Linked DNA regions of Homo sapiens: region 2 is linked to region 1. Evidence: fine-mapped expression QTL. Tissue or cell type: whole blood. Region 1 holds a variant in brackets; the other region holds the start of a gene. All regions are shown on one strand. Distances are between the middles of the regions.

Region 1 (2,766 bases):
TGCTTAGGATAATGGCCACCAGCTGCATCCATATTGCTGCAAAGGACATGCTTTGGTTCTTTTTTATGGCTGCATAGTGTTCCACAGTATATATGTACCACCTTTAAAAAATACAATCCACCACTGATGGGCACCTAGGTTGAATCCATGACTTTGTTATTGTGAATAGCCCTGCATTGAGTGTGATGAAGTGCATGTGTCTTTTGGTAGAATGATTTGTTTTCTTTTAGATATATACCCAGTGATGGGATTGCCAGGTCCAATGGCAGCTCTGATTTAAGTTCTTTGAGAAATCTCCAAACTGCTTTCCACAGTGGCTGAACTCATTTACATTCCCACCAACAGTGTATAAGCATTCCCTTTTCTCTGCAGCCTTGCCAATATCTGTTGTTATTTGACTTTTTAATAATTGCCATTCTGACTGGTGTGAGATGGCATCTCACTGTGGTTTTGATTTGCATTTCTCTCATGATTAGTGAGAATGAGCATTTTTTCACATGTTTGCTTGCTGCTTGTATGTCTTCTTTTGGGAAGTGTCTGTTTGTATCTGTATTAGTCTGTTTTCACATTGCTGTAAAGAACTACCTGAGATTGGGTAATTTATAAAGAAAAGAGGTTTAATTGGCTCACAGTTCCTCAGGCTGTACAGAAAGCATGACTGGGGAGACCTCAGGAAACTTACAATCATGGTGGAAGGCAAAGAGGAAGCAGGCACATCTTACATGGCCAGAACAGGAGGAAGAGAGTGAAGGGGGAAGTGCTACACACTTTTAATCAACCAGATCTCGTAAGAACTCACTATCAGGAGAACAGCAAGAGGGAAATCCGCCCCCATGATCCAATCACCTCCCACCAGACCCCCTCCTCCAACATTGGGGATTACAATTCAACATGAGATTAGGGCAGGGACACAAACCCAAACCATATCAATATCTGTTGCCCATTTTTAATGGGGTTGTTTTTTGCTTGCTCCATTGTTTAAGTTTCTTATAGATTCTGGTTGTTAAAACTTTGTCGGATGCAGAGTTTGTGAATATTTCCTCCCATTCTGTGGGGCTGTCTGTTTACTCTATTGATAGGTTCTTTGGCTGTTCAGAGCTGTTTAATTTAATTAGGTCCCATTTATCAGTTTTTGTTTTTGTTGCAATTGCTTTTGAGGATTTAGTCATAAATTCTTTCCCAAGGCCCATGTCCAGAATGGTGTTTCCTAGGTGTTCTTCTAGGATTCTTATAGTTTGAGGTTTTACATTTAAGTCTTCATCTTGAGTTAATTTTTGTATATGGTAAAAGGTAAAGGTCCAATTTCATTCTTCTGCACATGGCTAGCAAGCTCTCCCAGCACTATTTATTGAATAGGGAGTCTTTTTCATGTTGCTTATTTTTGTCAACTTTGTTGAAGATTATTAGATGGCTGTAGACGTGCTGCTTTATTTCTGGGCTCTTTATTTTGTTCCATAGGTTTATGTATCTGTTTTTGTATCAGTACCATACTGTTTTGGTTACTGCAGCCTTATAGTATAGTTTGAAGTCAGGTGATGTGATGCCTCTGGCTTTGTTCTTTTTGCTTAGAATTGCTTTGGCTATTTGAGCTCTTTTTTTATTCCATATGAATTTT[A/G]GAATAGTTTTTTTCCAATTCTGTGAAAAATTATGTTGGTAGTTTGTTATAAATAGTGTTGAATCTGTAGATTGCTTTGGGCAATAAGGTTGTTTTAGTGATATTGATTTTTTCAATCCATGAGTATGGAATGTTTTTACACTTGTTTGTGTCATTTATGATTTCTCTTGGCAGTGTTTTTAGTTCTTTTTGTAGAGGTCTTTTACCTCCTAGGTTAGATGTATTCCTAGGTGTTTTATTTTTTGTGTGGCTATTGTAAATGGGATTGTGTTCTTAATTTGGCTCTCAGCATGAACATTACTGGTGCATAGAAATGCATAGTACTGACTTTTGTACATTGATTTTGTATCCTGAAACTTTGCTGAAGTCAGTTGCAAGAGCCTTTTGGTGGTGTCTTTAGGATTTTCAAGGTCTAGAATTGTATTGTCCACAAAAAGAGATAATTTGACTTTCTGTCTTCCTATTTCGATGCCTTTTATCTCTTTCTTTCGTCTGATTTCTCTGGCTAGGACTTCCAGTACTGTGTTGAATAGGAGTTGTGAGTGTGGACATCTTCAAGTTCAAGGGGAATGCTTCCAGTTTCTGCCTATTTAGTATGATATTGGCTGTGAGTTTGTCATAGATGGCTCTTATTATTTTGAGGTATGTTCCTATGATGCCTAGTTTCTTGAGAGTTTTTACCATGAAAAGATGTTGAATTTTATTGTCCTTCCTGTCTATTGAGATAATATGGTTTTTGTTTTTAATTTTTTATGTGGTGAATTACATTTATTACTTGTGTATGTTGAACCAACCTTGCATCCCAGGAATGAAGCCTATTTGATCATGGTGGATTAACTTTTTAACATGTTGATGAATTTAGTTTGCTAGTATTTTTTAAAGGATTTTTGTATGTATATTCATCAGGGATATTGGCCTATAGTTTTATTTTGTCTGTCAGGTTTTTGTATCAGGGTGATGCTGGCTTTGTAGAATGCATTAGGGAAGAGTCCCTTCTACTTGATGTTTTGAAATAGTTTCAGTAGAATTGATGTGGTGCCAGCTTTTCCTTGAACATTTGGTAGATTTGGCTGTGAATCCATCTGGTCCAGGGCTTTTCTTGGTTGGTAGGCTTTTTTTTTTTTAATTACTGATTCAATTTCAGAACTGAT
Region 2 (2,628 bases), 280 kb before region 1:
ATCCGCCCACCTCGGCATCCCAAAATAATGGGATTATGGCCACCGCCCCTGGCCCTGTTTGGTAGTGGTCTAAATAGTCTGAGTCAGGCAATGGGACCAGGTAGGCTTTCAGTCTCTTGCTTAAAAATGGAGATTGTTGGCCGGGCACGGTGGCTCACGCCTGTAATCCCATCACTTTGGGAGGCTGGGGCGGGCGGATCACGAGTTCAGGAGATCGAGACCATCCTGGCCAATATGGTGAAACCCCGTTTCTACTGAAAATACAAAAATTAGCTGGGCGCGGTGGCGCGCGCCTGTAGTCCCAGCTACTAAGGAGGCTGGGGCAGAAGAATCGCTTGAACCCGGGAGGCGGAGGTTGCAGTGAGCCGAAACCGCGCCACTGCACTCCAGCCTGGAGACAGAACGAAACTCCCTCTCAAAAAAAAAAAAAAAAAAAAAAAAAAAAAAGGAGATTGTTGGCTAGGTACGGTAGCTCACGCCTGTAATCCTAGCACTTTGGGAGGCCGAGGGAGGCAGATCACGAGGTCAGGAAATCGGGATCATCCTGGCTAACAAGGTGAAACCCAGTCTCTACCAAAAATACAAAAAATTAGTCGGTGTGGTGGCGCGCGCCCATAGTCCCAGCTCCTCGGGAGCCTGAGGCAGGAGAATTGCTTGAATCCGGCAGGCCGAGGTTGCACTGAGCCAAGATCGCGCCACTGCACTCCAGCCTGGGCGACAGAGCGATACTGCGTCTCAAAAAAAAAAAAGGAGATTGTCAATACGCGGTTATACAATGTCTAAATGCTGGGCTGTTGAATGCCACTGACAGTAAAAAATATCTGTGCATAGTGGCAAGCCATAAGTAGCACCTCAGTCACCGTATAGTAATTAACTGCGTATCCTGGCATCCCGACAGGCAACCAGCTCTACCGGGTGAAAAGGTTGATGGCCAAGGGACTCCAACCTAACCAGGGCGCACTCGCGGCATTCTGCGATCCCGCACTGCATCATGGACTTTGTAGTTCAACATGCCAGTGACGTCACTGCCGGTTCCCCTCTGAGTGGGCCTATCGGGTAGACTTCCGATAACCCGTTTTTCTCTGGGAATTGTAGTCAGTTAGCGCCTGCTGGGTGTCTGCTCGGGTGGTCTGGGAACTACAATTCCCGGCGGGCTGTGAGATGCCTTGGCTGTAGTTAGTAAGGAGCCGGATGATTGCCTCAGCAGGTGTGAAGCGTGTGCTTTAGTTTCGTGGGAGGCCTGGCATCCCCGAGAGGGAGGGGAAAGGTAACCACTCCTTTGTGGAGGTCGCCAGGGTCATTGTCGTGGATTTGCACAGTCGGCTGGGCGGTGCAATGGCGGTGAGTTTGAGCGAGAAGAATCCGCAGGGGCCCTGGAGCCGGACTGGCCAGTCTCTAGGGGCTCTCCATGTGCTGTCCTGAAGGGAAAGTCCTTTTCTAAAAGAGAGCCACGCTTAAGGCGTGCCTTTCGTAGAGACTTTGCTTTTTCTTGCTAGTTTATGAACCACGAACTGATGTCTGTTAACTTTACGGAGTACTTGGATATCATATTTGTTATTTCTCTGGAGTTTCTAAAATCGAGGTGGAGAGCCGGGCACGGTGGCCCACGGCTGTAATCCCAGCACTTTGGGAGGCCGAGGCGGGTGGATCATTTGAGGTCAGGAGTTCGAGACCACCCTGGCCAACATGGTGAGACCCCGTTTCTACCAAAAATACATAAATTAGCCGGGCGTAGTGGTGCGCGCCTGTTAACCCAGCTACTCGGGAGGCTGAGGCAGGAGAATTGCTTGAACCCGGGAGAGGGAGGCTGCTGTGAGCCAGGATCGCGCCACTGCACTCCAGCCTGGGCGACAGAGTGAGACTCCGTCTTAAAAATAAAATAAATAAATAAACAAACAAATAAAGCCGAGGTGGAGAGAGGAGTATGTAAGTTGATTCCTACTTACAGCAAAAAAAAAAAAAAAAAAAAAAAAAAAAAAAGAAAAAATTGAGCGCCTCTCCGTAAAACAGACAAAAATCTCTCTTTTCATAGTGTTTATGTGTGTGGGTAAAATACATTGTAAAATATTGTGTCAGGTGCTGATAAATGCTGTGGGGAAAAAATAGAGCAGGAAGGGGTGCTAGGGAGTGTACGGTGGGGTAGTACAGTTGCAATTTTTAAAAATTTTTTTAAATTTGGGAGATGTTCTCACTCTGTGACCCAGACTGGAATGCAGTGGCGTGATCATGGCTCACTGCAGCCTGGACCTTAGGGCTCAAGCGATCCTCACACCTCAGCCTCCCCACAGCTGGTACTGCAAGCGTGCTCCATTACACCCTGCTAATTTTTTGTATTTTTAGTAGAGACAGGGTTTCGAACTCCTGGGGTCAAGCGATCCTTCTGTCTCAGCCTCCGAAAGTGCTGGGACTACAGGCATGAGCCATCCCGCCTGGTTTTATTTTTTTTTGTTTTTTGTTTGTTTGTTTGTTTTTTTCTTGAGACGGAGCCTTGCCCTGTCGCCAGGCTGGAGTGCAGCGGCGCGATCTCGGCTCACTGCAACCTCCTCCTCCCAGGTTCAAGCGGTTCCCCTGCCTCAACTTCCCGAGTAGCTGGGACTACAGGCGCGCGCCACCATGCCCAGTTAAATT

Evidence for each region. PIP is the estimated chance that this variant, and not a neighbour inherited with it, causes the effect.
Region 2: it holds the start of LARS1, and the variant in region 1 is fine-mapped to the expression of LARS1 in whole blood (TOPMed, PIP 0.96).

Annotation. Positions count from the first base shown.
Region 1 is chr5:145,898,261-145,901,026 of GRCh38, reverse strand. It overlaps a transcript of GRXCR2 not described here. Among named protein-coding and RNA genes, the nearest start is that of GRXCR2, 27 kb to the right of the region's middle. The variant A/G (reference allele first, on the strand shown) is at 1,616.
Region 2 is chr5:146,181,201-146,183,828 of GRCh38, reverse strand. It overlaps LARS1 (leucyl-tRNA synthetase 1), which reads left to right and starts at 1,179. Exons shown (of 32, transcript NM_020117.11): 1 at 1,179-1,341. The coding sequence starts at 1,336. RefSeq lists enhancers at 1-587, 1,496-1,655.